2 separate regions of the Homo sapiens genome follow, and region 2 is linked to region 1. A link means that fine-mapping ties the variant in region 1 to the expression of a gene that starts in the linked region. Tissue or cell type: whole blood. Region 1 holds a variant in brackets; the other region holds the start of a gene. All regions are shown on one strand. Distances are from middle to middle.

Evidence for each region. PIP is the estimated chance that this variant, and not a neighbour inherited with it, causes the effect.
Region 2: it holds the start of DDT, and the variant in region 1 is fine-mapped to the expression of DDT in whole blood (TOPMed, PIP above 0.99).

The regions. Positions count from the first base shown.
Region 1 is chr22:23,899,709-23,907,419 of GRCh38, reverse strand. No RefSeq gene overlaps it. Among named protein-coding and RNA genes, the nearest start is that of MIF-AS1, 4.6 kb to the right of the region's middle. RefSeq lists an enhancer at 1-576. The variant G/A (reference allele first, on the strand shown) is at 3,212.
Region 2 is chr22:23,971,219-23,978,179 of GRCh38, reverse strand. DDT (D-dopachrome tautomerase) reads left to right here and starts at 3,739. Exons shown (of 3, transcript NM_001084392.3): 1 at 3,739-3,873; 2 at 4,237-4,412; 3 at 6,557-6,810. The coding sequence starts at 3,766. The coding sequence ends at 6,629. It overlaps DDTL (D-dopachrome tautomerase like), which reads right to left. Exons shown (of 3, transcript NM_001084393.2): 3 at 5,624-6,894. The coding sequence ends at 6,774.

The sequences.
Region 1 (7,711 bases):
ACAATACCTGGCTTTCTTAGGAAGAGGTCCCTGCGGCCTTCCGCAGTGTTTGTGTCCCTGGGTACTTGAGATTAGGGAGTGGTGATGACGCTTAACGAGCATGCTGCCTTCAAGCATCTGTTTAACAAAGCACATCCTGCACAGCCCTTAATCCATTTAACCCTGAGTGGACACAGCACATGTTTCAGAGAGCACGGGGCTGGGGGTAAGATCATAGATTAACAGCATCTCAAGGCAGAAGAATTTTTCTTAGTACAGAACAAAATGGAGCCTCCTATGTCTACTTCTTTCTACACAGACACAGTGACAATCTGATCTCTTTTTCTTTTCCCCACATAGCCAGGCCCCCGCTGCTGGGGTAGCCCAGCCTACGCCTCCGGGGGCCTTCAGGGAAGAGAACCAGCTAAGGCTGGGGGGACCAGGAGAAGGGTCCCCCAAGGTTGGAAAGTGCATGCAGGAGGATGCTCAGCAGGGGCTGCAACAGGGGGGCCTTGGGAGCCCACCAGGCAGGGATCAGCAAGGGGTCTCACTCAGCGAGGGACTGCAAAGCCTCACTTCAGTCTCTAGGTCCAGGGATCAGGCTCACCAACTCCCTGCAGAGGCCCCAGCAGCAGGGGACCGCAGGCTCACAGCATGGACAGTGGGTGATATCTGTTGTAAGCTCTCCTCTTCCCTCTCCCGCTCCCCATGGCCTCCGCTATCAGAACATATTCTGCCTCTTGCAATATGGACAGAGTGGGTCCTTAAAAAAAATTACCTAAAATGTTAGCTCAGGGTTCACTTCCAGAAGAGAAAACAGGTGTAAGGGGTTCTGGGACAGGCCTGTGGAAATCGGGAGTGATACCAAGGCTGACTGTAGCATTGGGGATAAAAAGGAGGGAGGAGTCCCAGAGTAGGGTGGGGACCACATAGGACACCACTTCCTTAGGGCCCAGACAGAGGCAGGAGGTCTGATATCAGCAGTCAGTTGGGAGTTCCTAGGGGTCTGGGGTGGTGGAGAGAGACCTTCACAAGTTGGGCAGGCTGCTCTGCTTCACCCCAGATTAGAGGGCACTGCTGGACACCCACATGGCAAAGTGGCCAAATCCCAAGGGAAGACCCAAGGAGCCGAGTTGAAACTGCCCCCTGCTCCTGAACTCAGGGGTCAGCGATATTGCTGCTACTTGCTAAGCCCAGTTGCCCCTGTGTTATCCACTCCCCCTTGGAGACCTCGGGGCAGCATAGATTCCCCCCACCCAGGACTTGGAATGGGTCATCATTCAATGCTATTTAATTCCAAGGGTAGCCTGGACTCCAGACGACACATTCTTTTACTACTCTTCCTACTTTCCCATCCTAAATTAGGTCCAACCTCAAAGTTCAAATTTGAGTCAGAGGTTCTGCAGATATATAAGATGCCAGATACCCAGATAAAAAGTCAACCTAGAAATGTCTTTCATAAATTTCCTAGGGTCAAATTCAAGTCAAAAAATTAAGTTCCCTTGTCCTTTTAGGTTAAAGTCCAAAGGGAAAAAAAAGTCTTAAGGTCAAAGGATTCAAGCCCAAAGCAATCAAAGAGAGCCCAGGGATCCGTCAGAGCCCAGTGGTGTTAACCTCCTCCCCGAGGCTCTGTGCTCACCCAGTGAGCAAAGTGGCCCAGTAGGCACGGGAGGGCTGGGTGTCCTGGAAAGTGAGATCCTTCTCTCCACATCTCAGCATTTTCACTAGCCTGCCATGTGCTCCAGTTTTAAAAGACCCAGAGTTACTAGGAATGAGCAGATGGTGATAGCCTCAGCCTCCTGCTCGCCAACCACAGGGAAGTCCTTAGAGCAGCATGCAGGCCATGAGATGTCTCCAGGATCCCGGACCCAGCCCCATGTAGCCCTCTCTTCCTGCTACCTCAGTACTCCAGCAGGAATGCCCTGGCAGCTGATGGAAAGAGAGTAGACAGGGAAGACAAACCCTAGACCCCACAGCATATCTAACCAGGTGGAGGGTTAGCATTAGCCCTGGCGACCCCGCTGGGGTGGAGCAGGAAGCAATTTCTGCTGTCCTCCTCCCTGAGCGTATCTGTACAAGCAGTCATCACCTGCCTGGGTCTTATTTATAATACCTTCTCCTTTTCATATGTGTGAAATCTCATCATTTCCATTTCCCTCTGTATGCCCATTGCATGGATGTCTTCAGTCCTAAGAGATCCTGCCCCAGTCAGTGCAGCACAGCCCAGCAGGTTGCTGAGCTGAGCACCAGGGAGCAGTGGCTGTGTCCCACTGGCTCTCAGGACACTAGCTGTCCTCCACTGGGGATGTTCCCAGTCTTGAGCAGCACTGTTTCTGCAGCACAGTTGTCAGCAGTTGGGGACAGATGTCCACAGCTGTGCTTCCTCATGCGACTGCTGGCTTGCATCCCCAGCATGGCTCAGCTGGGGCCCTGGCAGTTGTGCTGGCTGCTGGCAGTCTTCACACACAGGGCTGGTCATTTGTGTTCAACCCCAGTGCCTTCCCTCCTTTTACTTTCTCTTTGCTTTCCGGCCCATATATTTACTTTTTCTGATCTGTTCCTCTAGATTTTGTCACTTGGGGGTCTCCCCTGGCAACAGAAAACAAAACCAGGCAATCCCAGGTTTGCCACAAGAATTGCTGTTGAAACAGTCCCACAGCTGCGCCCAAGAGATGGCGGCCATGGCCATCAGCCTCCCTGCCGTCAGCCCCTCTCTCCTGACTGGCTGTGCTCTCCTCAGGGAGGACTCCACTGAGCCCTCCTTGACACCTAATCCCTACATTTAAAAAATGCATTCCCTTAGGTCCTGAGCAACCCCAGACACCCACCCACAGTAACTATGCTGTCCCCAGGTATACCTAAAATATTTTCAATGTTTGATGCTGATCTTCTGTCCTTTAATTTGCCCAAATTCCCTACAGCCTCTGAGGGCTGCCCTGGCTCATGGAATGGCTTCTGATTCTTACGGAGTTGCTGTCTGCAGCATTGAATGGCCCCCCCTCAAGAGTGTTCTGGGTCACCTGGTTCCCTGGTGGTGACCTTGTCTGTTCCCAACGTCTGCCCTCCCCTCACATCAGGGAGCTTTCCTGTCCCCTAAGTTGGTCTGGCCCACTCCAGGGTCCCATGATCCCTCATCTCTGCACAGCCTGCCTCCTGACACCACTGCTCCCATTCTAAGGGTAAGACTGTGGTGTGTTTTTCAAACCATTCCAGTTCCTTCTGGATCTCCCAA[G/A]TAAACCCAATTCCCTGGGACAGACGGTTCTCAGCACAAGCCATTTGTATGGCCCTTGCTAGCTTTGGATGCGTATTGATTTCATTGTTTCTCTATCTCAACCCAAGAAAATAGCATATTCTCTGAAGGGCCCTGATTCCTTTTAATGCTGTTGTCCATTAACAAACTCTTACCTTTCTGTGGGCAAAGCCACGACTTTAGTCTCCCAATTCCTGGGTCAAAATGTACGTAATAGCCAGGCACGGTGGCTCATACCTGTGATCCCTGTAATATTCTGGGATGCCAAGGCGGGAAGATCACTTAGGGCCAGCCTGGGGAACCTAGTGAAATCCTGTCTCTACAAAAATAAAAATATAATTAGCTGGGCATGGTGGCACAAAACTGTAGTCTCAGCCACTCAAGAAGCTGTGGCGGGAAGATGGCTTAATCCCAGGAGTTCAAGGTTACTGTGAGCTTGATTGCACCACTGCATTGCAGCATGGGCAACAGGGAGAGACCCTGTCTCTAAAAAGAAACAACAAATTAAAACAAAATGTATGTAAGGCACAAATCGAGAGCCAAGCTGAGCCGCACAAGGGGACTAACTCAGCAGACCTAGGGATGTGTTTCGTGGGCTCAGGAGGGACCCTCCCCAGTCCCTGTTCTGGCAGGAGGCTTTGAGGACAGCTCATCTGGCACAACTCCACTGTGGGTGGTACAAGACTCATACCAGGTTGCACCGGCCCCTTGCTGCCTTCGCAGTTGGAAGTGGTGATCTCAGACCTGGCTGAGAACACAGTAAAGGCAGCAAGCCTGGGCCTGCCCTCCTCCATTCATGCCTCAGAGGTTGGGACCCTTCTGTAGCCTCCTCTGCACTGTCTCTCTTTGGATTAATAGGAGGCCCGTGCAGGAGTCAGAGAACACGGCTCTGAGCTGTGACCATCCCCAAAGCACTGCCCTGAGTTGCCAAAGGTCATATCCCCACATGGACCTTACTTTATACCAGCAAGATGGAACCTCCGGCCTGGGCCACTAGTTAAAAGCCAACCCTAAGACTGTAAGGATCAGCTCGTGGCTCCAAAGCTCTGTGGGGAACTGCCAAGGCCAGAAGCCAGTGTGGTCCCTGTGAAGCCCCCGCGCACACACCAGGCATCCCCAAAGCCTCAGACTTTATGTGGTTACTTGAGGACTCAAAGCTCAAAGCCTCTGCTGGATTTAAGGGGGCTTAAATAGAACACGCCTTTCTTCCCATTCCAATCCTGGGGCCTCCACCACAGTTGTGAGGGTCATAGCACATGCCAGAAGGCAGGGAGCACACAGCAAAGCAGGGCCCAGAAAGACTGAGCTAGACGGGGGGCGCTAAGGAGGTGCTTGTTTAGGGACATAAGCACCTCATGGGGAAACAAGGAGGTGAGGAAGAACGGCCCCCACTCCCAGCAGAAACACTGTGGTGGGAAGCTCAGGGAGGCTGGGGGTGGGCTGGGGAAGAGGCCAACAAAGTGGGAACAGCCCTCCGTATGGGCCAGTGTCTGGCAAGGTCTTAGTGGGATGGGGCAGTTGGGCAGTGCTTCTGCATGGCACGGTACCCAACGGTCGGCCTGGTGGTGGTGCTCTTCACTTCCTCTTCACTCCCTTCTACTGTGCATGTTAACTTTTGTATCAGGGAGTATGAGATATGGAAAAATGCATAAATGCATAAGGTTTAATAAATATATATAGGCACTTGTAAGAACAGAGAGAAAAATACTGCAGCACCCTGCCACCTCCCAAATGCCCCTGGCCAGTGGGACCGCTGTCCTGACAGTGATAGAAATCATTTCTTGGCTTTCATCACAATTTTCCCACCTACACGTGGTCCTCTGAACAGTACAGTTTGGGGGTCCTTGTTTTCAAACTTTATATAAATGGAACTGCATTATATATATATATCTTGTGGCTTTTGCTCAATATGTTTATGAGATTTGACCGTGGTGATATTTGTACCTATAGCTTGTTCATTTCACTGCTGTTGAATATTCCATGAATGAACAAGCATAATTTATCCAATTATTGATGGACATTGGGTTGCTTCGAGATACAAGTTTCTCCGGGATAAATATATCGAGGAGTGGGATTGTGGGCACGTTACAGCTGAGGAGGTTAGTAGTGGTGTGTCATGGTGGTTCTTATTTCCCTGATTTCTACTGACGATGAACAACTTTTCCATTGGATATTCTGTTTTGTGAAGTGGCTTCTAAAGTCCTTTGCTCATTTTTTTAAATAGGGTTTCCTAATAATGTAATGTTGAGATAGGAGATCAGCAGAACTTGTTTTCCAAGCACTGGTCAAGACCTTGGTCATGATCCCGCTGATCAAAACAGAATCTGGTCGGAACAGGATGCAGTGAAGAAATCAGCTGAAACCAGCTGGAACCAAGATGGCAACAAAAGTGACCTCACTTTTGTCCCTCACTGCTCATTATATGCTAGTGATAATGCATGCTAAAAGACATTCCCACCAGCACCATGACAGTTTACACATGCCACGGCAATACCCAAAAGTTATCTTATGTGATTTAAAAGGGGGAGGAACCCTCAGTTCCAGGAACTCCGGATCCCTTTGCTAGAAAATTCATGAATAACCTGCCCCTTATTTAGCATATAATAAGAAGTAGCTATACATATAGATAGCTGGTAGTCCAGGAGTGCTGCTCTGCCTATGGGGTAGCCCTGTAAACCCCATCCACCTGTATGGATGCTCTATGAAACCCACTTTTCTGTACTCTGTTGCTCTAATAAACTTGCTTTGCTTTCACTCTTTTCTGTTGGGTCACTCTCAAATTATTTCCTGTGCAAAGCCAAGAACGCTCTCAGGCTGAGCCCCAGTTTTGGGGCTCACTTGCATTAAGATAAGTTGCAGAAATTGTAGCATGTCTTTCATTCTTACGGTGTCTCACTAATAGTGTGTCAATCTTTCCTTATTGTATGTACTCATTTTATCTTACTTAAATCATAAAGATGATATTCTTCTACACCATCTTTTAAGATCTTTGTGGCCTTTTCTTTATGGCTGTAATCTATGTAGAACTGACTTTTGTGTGGGAGTTAAATAGGAGCCCAGTTTGATGTTTCTCCTTACATGGTAGCCAGCTGCCCAGCACCCCTAGTTGAATGAGTTCTTCTTTTCATGTGGATTTCAATGCTCCCCCAGTCTGATATTGTGTCCATGTGTGTGGAGAGGTCTGTTTCTGGATTGCTCTTTTTTCCATTGGTCTGTTGTCTGCCATGTTCTGATTCCACTTTGCCTTAATTGTGTAGCTTGATCATGTGTCTTAACATTGAAAAAGCAAATCCTCACACCTTGCCTTCTACAAGAAAATGTTTTGACTCTTCTTGGTCATTTAGAGTCTCATATAAATGTTAGAATTAGGTTGTCAATTCCCATAGAAAAATCTGTTAGAATTTTGATTGGGACTGTGCTGAATCATCAACCAGACAGAACTGTTACGAGCACAATATTGCCTCCAGTACAGAGATGCTGAGACCAACTCGATCGGGGAGACCCTAACCCAGCGGCGCTAGAGGAATTAAAGACACACACACAGAAATATAGAGGTGTGAAGTGGGAAATCAGGGGTCTCACAGCCTTCAGAGCTGAGAGCCCCAAACAGAGATTTACCCACGTATTTATTAACAGCAAGCCAGTCATTAGCATTGATAGATATTAGATTAACTAAAAGTATACCTTATGGGAAACAAAGGGATGGGCTAAAATAAAGGGATGGGTTGGGCTAGTTATCTGCAGCAGGAACATGTCCTTAAGGCACAGATCACTCATGCTATTGTTTGTAGTTTAAGAATGCCTTTAAGCAGTTTTCCGCCCTGGGTGGGCCAGGTGTTCCTTGCCCTCATTCTGGTAAACCGACAACCTTCCAGCATGGGTGTTATGGCCATCATGAACATGTCACAGTGCTGCAGAGATATTGTTTATGGCCGGTTTTGGGGCCAGTTTATGGCCAGATTTTGGGGGGCCTGTTCCCAACACAGAGACATGGTCAGTCTCTTCATTTATTTAGTTCTCCAATAACGTTCAGGGTGTTAGTTTTCTCTGTAGAGGTTCTCTGTAGAGTACATCTTGGATTTGTTTCTAGGTACAGGAAACTTTTTAAAAATATATTTTATATAGACCAGGGTCTCACCACGTTGCTCAGGCTGGTCTTGAACTCCTGGCCTTGGCATCCCAAAGTGCTGGGATTACAGATGTGAGCTACTGCACCCAGCCAGGAAATGTATTTTCTATTGCTCTCCCACAACTCCCACCACATCTTCTCCATCTGCATGAAATCATATTCTCTGTATGGTATCTGTAAAGTCATATCTTATTCTGAGAAATGTCCATTTCTGCATCAATACTCATCGCATGTATTCTAAATATACTTTGTCTTGTTTGTCTTGTATATAGGTTATTGTAGTTACTTGACCTGTGCCGAAATGTTAAATGTGTGTAAGTTCATGTCCTTCATTCTGGCTTTTTATTCACTAA
Region 2 (6,961 bases), 71 kb before region 1:
CCAGCTGGTGGGGAAGGAAGCGTGGTGTGTTTGAGGACAGAATGGAGAGAAGTTGAGTAGAGCAAGTGTAGACTCTTCCTATCCAAAGTGTGGTCAATGGACTGGGAGTATCAGCATCACCAGGGAGCTTGTTGGAAATGCAGAGGCTCAGGCCCCACTCTGACCTTACTGATTGGGAGCATAAACTGTAACCAGATTCCAGGGAGGATTCATACACACATTCCCGTTTGATAAGTGGGGGGTAGTAGGAGGTGAGGTGAAAAGTGGGGAGGGGATGGCTACCGCACTGGAGAAGGCTGGCTTTGTGTTGAGGCCTTTCTCATGAGGGCAGTGGGGAGCCATGGAAGGCTTTATGCAAGAGAGGGTACGGGCAGATTGAGATTACAGAAGGATCCCACTGGTTGCCTTGTGTGAGGACCCAGGGAGAAGGGGGAGGCTGTCCCTGTTTGAGTAGGAGATGAGAGCTACTGGTGGCTATGAGTGGAAAGAAGTGAGCAGAGGTGAGCAGAAATCCCAAGGACTGGTGATGATAGGATGATGGTGGGAACCAGGATGGGCTTTGGGCAGACCCTGACCCCTCTCTCTGCCTGTCGGCCCACCAGATAATAATCCCTGTGTTCCTGGGCGAGTCAGTGCCACCCGAGATGTTGGCGGCCACTTTGGCTGAGCTGGACGGATGCCTGCAGCTGCTCGAGGACAAGTTCCTGCGGGACCAGGCCTTCCTTACTGGGCCCCGTATCTCTGTGGCTGGCTTGGTGGCAATCACGGAGCTGAGGCATGAGAGTGCCATGGGGTGCGGTGGCCCGCTGGGCAGTGGTGTATCCGGGAAGGGAGCTGACATCCCAGCTCATGTTGTCTTTTCTGGCTGTGGGACCCTGTGTGAGTCACTTCTCCTTCTGAGCCTCAGTGTCCTCATCTATAAAATGGGGCTTTACAAACCCCTCACCGCAGCTATATTAAGAGGCTTCCAAGTGTCCCCAGGGAGGGGGACATCCTAGCCCATCACACACATGGTGGAGGAGGGAAAATCCAATCAGAGAACCCCTAAAGCAGGTCATGCTGCCTTACACTTGGCTATGCCCAGCCCCTCCGCTGACTCTGTCTTCCCCTAGCCCATCAGTGCTGGCTGCTGAGTCTTTGAAAGCAGACCCACGGTGGCAGCATGGTGCCCAACACGTGGAGGCTGCAGTGCGGGAGGACTTCTTCCAGGAGGCCCTCCCAGCTGTCCTGAAGGCCAAGGACCTGCCTCCAGTAGAACCTGCTGTTAAAGAGAATCTGAAGACCTTAATGCAGCTTTTCTTGCTGTGAGTGCGTGTCCCACACTTGCTGAGCCACTGAGGGGATGCTGTGTTGGTAGAATAAAGACATGGAGCTGTCCGTCTCCTTGGTTGAAGAGAAGACATATCTGCAAAGGCTCTGGTCCACAGTTCCTCCAGATATCATGCCTGCATTCCTTTTGTCTCCTACCCCATTCCATTCTAGCTTCCATGTGACCTCTGAAAAGAGCTTGGGCAAACGCTTACTTGACCCTGACCTTCTGTGTGGAACTTTGTATGGTTCCTCACTGCCCAGAAGCTAAAGTACAAGTCATTGAACTTTGCATTCAAGGCCTTGCTCCCACTCCTCCAGGTGGCCCCTTCTGCCTGCACACTCCTAACCCCTCTCTGGGCTCCCACCTTGGCCTCTTGGCCTCCGCTCATGCTGTTCCCTCCTCATCTTCGCCTGGTGCCCTTCCTGGTCTTTTGGCATTTGGCACCCTGTCTCTTCTCCAGGGAGACTTCCCTGACCTCCCCAGCCCCAGTCCAGGTCAGGCGACCTCTCTGGGCTCCTCAGCCCCAGTGTTTCCTTGCGGGGGATACCCCCGGACTGAGCATGTATCATCGATGAGGGGTGACCTGGTGGAAAGATGTCTGAATCAGGATCAGCCTTGGTCTCCTCGGTCTCTCTCCTCACTGTGGGGCGATGTTGTGTTCCACAAGTGGGGTGCAGGGCTGGTTCATGAACCTCCTTGCAGGAAGGGAAGTCCCTGGTTATTTCCTGGCCCTCTCCCATGCCTCCTCATAACCTTGACCACAGTCTTCTCTACACCCCACTCCCGGACCACTGGCTTGTCCATGCCCCACACCTGGTCCCAGACTTGCCACCTGTCCCTGCCCTCTCCCCTTAGGACTGTCATATTTACCTGTCGTGTGTCTCAGACCTTCTGATATCTGAGTCATCTAATAAACAAACTGCTAATAGGACAAGATCATGACAGACAGAGACTCTGTCGGCCTTTCAGTGGAGGCTCCTTTAAGTATGCACACTTATAGAGAATTTTATACACGTAGTTGAAATTGTACATATAAACTTGCAAATTTTTTCTTTCTTTTTTGTGGGGGAGGGGGGAGCCTGGGTCTCACTCTGTCATCTAGGGTGGAGTGCAGTGGCACAGTCATAGCTCCCTGCAGCCTAGATCTCCTGCGCTCAAGCAATCCTCCTGCCTCAGCCGCCCAGGTAGCTAGGACTACAGGCACACACCACAGCACCCAGATTTCTTCTTTTTTTTTTTTTTTTTGTAGAAAATAAAGAAGAGAATCTTGCTATGTTGCCTAGCCTGATCTTTAACTCCTGGGCTCAAGCAATCCTCCCTTCTTAGCCTCCCAAAGTGCTGAGATTACAGGTGTGAGCCACATTGCTCGACCACAACTTCAGTCATATTTGTAATGTACAATTCAAGTGATTTTGCCACACTGACCACACTCATGTTTAAGCCACGCCAACAGAGTTCCATGTTTTCTGATGTTTTTTCGAGATGGAGTCTCGCTCTGTCACCCAGGCTGGAGTGCAATGGCGCGATCTCGGCTCACTGCAACCTCCACCTCCCCGGTTCAAGCGATTCTCCTGCCTCAGCCTCCCGAGCAGCTGGGATTACAACGTCTGCCACCACGCCCGGCTAATTTTTGTATCTTTAGTAGAGACGGGGTTTCGTCATGTTGGCCAGGCTGGTCTCAAACTCCTGACCTCAGGTGATCCGCCCGCCTGGACCTCGCAAAGTGCTGGGATTACAGGCGTGAGCTACCGTGCCCGGCCTTTCCATGTTTTAAAGAACATATTTTGCCACCCCCTGGTGGACAGTGGCTCACCACCGGCACAAGAGGCTACACAGGCAGATGTCAATGGGGACCAGGCAGGGACAGGTATTGTCGTGAGCCTAGCCCTACCCGCGCCCCCGCGAGTAACCACATCTCCTGACTGCCCAAGCGCAGATTTCCATACTGAACATGAAATTGCCTGACTTCGAAATGGTGGCAAATCATTCAAAAAAACTTTAAGCTCCCGTTGTATTGGTTATTAGGGTCGAGCCTGGGGAAGACCCCTATAGGTGTGTGTGTGTCCTTGTGTGTCGGGGGTGTGGTGTTCAGACCTCTAATAGGGCTAGGAACCGGGCGACCACAGCGCGGAAGCTTGAGAGGGAAACCCACCTGGCGCCAGGCAGGAGGGTCGGGGGAGACAGGGTGGGTCCACTACCGGGTTAAAGACCTGTAGTGGGTGGGGCTACACGTAGGGCGGAGACGATGGGACTTCCGGAAATCAGCCGGCACACGTGACTTTTGTTTGCAGAAGCGGGAGGTACCCTAGGCAGCCAATCGGGGAGCGCCGAGTCTCTGTCCAGCCAATGAGAAGCCAGGTTGCTGTGGCGCCTCGCCCCTCCTCCCTGGTCCGCGAGCCTTGGGTACCCCCAGCTTTTCTTCCGCCAGAGCTGTTTCCGTTCCTCTGCCCGCCATGCCGTTCCTGGAGCTGGACACGAATTTGCCCGCCAACCGAGTGCCCGCGGGGCTGGAGAAACGACTCTGCGCCGCCGCTGCCTCCATCCTGGGCAAACCTGCGGACGTAAGCGTGGGCCGGGCAGCACGGGGCGAGGGGAGGTTGGTGGGCCAGGGGTCCGGCCCTGTCCCTGCTCCGCCTCCCCGACAGTGACCCCGAATCTTTTCCCCAGGGACCACTCCCCACTCCTTTCCTCACGCCAAGCTCTGACTTTCCGTGCTCCACGATCCCGCGGCTCCCCCTCCGCACGTCTTTCCCTTGTCGCCCTCCCCAGTCATGACCCGGGCGTGACCTTCAGGGACCGCGGCCCGTATCGGGATCCCTGCCCCGCGAACACTGCGCGTTTCGGCTTTCGCGCGCTCGGGTCCCGTCCCCAGAGGTAGCCCGGCCGGCTCCAACTTCGGGCAAAACTTTTCATGTCCCCCTCAGCGCGTGAACGTGACGGTACGGCCGGGCCTGGCCATGGCGCTGAGCGGGTCCACCGAGCCCTGCGCGCAGCTGTCCATCTCCTCCATCGGCGTAGTGGGCACCGCCGAGGACAACCGCAGCCACAGCGCCCACTTCTTTGAGTTTCTCACCAAGGAGCTAGCCCTGGGCCAGGACCGGTGCGTAGGGGTAGTAGGGGATCCATGTGGGACTGCCGCAGACTGGAGCCACTGATCCTGCCTCAGGGGGAAAAACCCATTTCTTGCCCTGCCCAGTAAGGACACATCAGGGTCTGGAGCTTTGGGGCCCCCTGACCCCTTAGGTTCCTGCTGTTAGGACCATCTTCAAAGTGCGAGCAGGATTGAATGAATTTCTGGCTCTGCTCCTCAGTGTGTAAGTCTGTGAACCGGGAAGGCTCTCTTTTAACACCCCCGGGGCAGTGCAAGGGTCATGTGGGATTGTCTGTGTGCTGTACCTGCCTTGGCACCTGACAGGGTAGGTACACGTGGCTGAAGTGTGATTTTCTAGAACTTTTCCAGGCTGGTCAGAAGGAATTCTGGGTATGTTCTGAAGTTACGTATTTTGGACCTGTGTCCCAGCCAGGTTCCAGGTGAAGTTCACGGGAGACTCACAGAGTAGTGAAAGACCATTGGCCTGGATGTCTAGACATCTGCTTTCTGGGTCCTGCATAGCTGGGGGACCCCAGACAAACTTGGAAATGAACCATCTCCAGTTGGCAACCTCCTCTTCTGTGAATACAGGGGAAAAGACCTCCCTCCCCCACAAGAAGCGTCTGCAACCCAAACCTGGCGTTCTGTGACCGAGTTAAAGTTTCCTCTTGGGTAAAAGATATTCTTGAGCCACATCCATGTCTAGGAGGAAGTAAGGGCATGAGAAGCTTGAAAGGACACTGTCCAGGCACGGTGGCTCATGCCTGTAATCCCAGCACTTTGGGAGACCAAGGCGGGAGGTTCATTTGACCCAGGAGTTGTAGACCAGTCTGGGTAACATAGTGAGATGCCATCCCCCAAAACAGTTTTAAAAATTAACCGGACATGGTGGTGTGCACATGTAGTCTCACTTAGTTGGCAGGCTGAAGTGGGAGGATGGTTTCAGCCCAGGAGGTTGAGGCTGCAGTGAGCTATGATTGCGCATTGCACTCCATCCTGTGTGACAGTGAGACCTTGGCTCACAAAAAAAGACCTTCTGAAATGGAGCCTTTGTTAGTCCATGAAGGTCGATGAGGAATGGCTGATCCTGCTGGGTCCTCCCTCAAGCTACAGAGGAATAATACAGTCAGCCCCCTGTATCACTGGGTTACGCATCTGTTGATTCAAACAACCATGGATTGAAATATTAGAGGAAAAAAAATTGATAATTGCATCTATACTGAAAATACGTATAGACTTTATTCCTTGTCATTATTCCCTAAACAATACAACTATTTACATAGTACGTACATTATATTAGGTATTATAAGTAACCCAGAGATTATTTAAAGTATATGAGAGGATGTGTGTAGGTTACATGCAAATATTACACCATTTTATGTAAGGGACTTGAGCAAATGTAGATTCTGGTTTCCTCTGGGGATTCTAGAACAAATCTCCCACGGATACTCAGGGAAAACTGTTACTCTAACAACAAGTGTTATACACTTACCATGTGCTAGGTCCTCTACAGGTACTTTACACTCATGATCCCATTTGATCCTTACAATCCCTATCCACTCTCCCTTTGCTCAGACAAGACATGCTATCCCCATGAGGTAGATAATCTCCATTATGCCAATTTTATGATGAGAAGACAGGCTGTTCATACTCCCGCCCGCCCCAACCAGGCTGTCCCAAGTTCTGGTTTTCCTCACTGGAAACTTGCTGTTACCTCTGAGAGGGGCATGTTCACTTATGGCCCAGACATTAGTGGCGGGGTTGGTGGGGTGGGGGGTCACCCTGTGCTCAGCCTTTGAGAAAACAGGTGGCTGAGGTACTGTGCCCTTAGGGAGCCTGCAATTAGGAGGCAGGGTACCCCTCAGTACACAAACTGATGGAGATGATAGAGTGTACGGCACACACACCGAGGCTACTGTATTGTGTGTCTGTCCTAGCTGGGTCATGATGTGCGGCTACCTCCCACACCTGAGTGTCCCACTGCCCTGCTGGGGGTTGGGGAAAATCATTATTGGGATGAGCAGGTTTGCAAAATGCCTGGTGGACTGAGGCAGGCTGTCCTGAGTACCCACAGTGGGAGTACCTGGCAGGGGTCTTGCAAGATGTGGTATTAGCCAAGGAGCTGATGATATCTTTTTCTCTGTCTCCTGAAGGATACTTATCCGCTTTTTCCCCTTGGAGTCCTGGCAGATTGGCAAGATAGGGACGGTCATGACTTTTTTATGATTGGGCACGGAGGGATCCAGGGCATCTGTGAACTGGCTGCTTCTTCCAGAGAGATCTCTTGGCAGAGTGAGGGCCTGGAGATAACCAGCTTTGGATTATCCCGCATGCAACATTCCTGTGATCACATAATCCTCTTCTTCATCCTCATATGAAATAAATGAAGAGAGCTTCCTCATTCAAACATGACTTCTTACCTTCTATTATCTCTCCTGGGCATCTGGGGCCACCATGGGCAGCAGGGCTGGTGGATAAGACCGTAGGGAACCTGGAGGGGGATGATTTAGACTGCTCAGATCTGGGGCTGGGAGACTCAGCCTGGAGGCTCTGCTCTC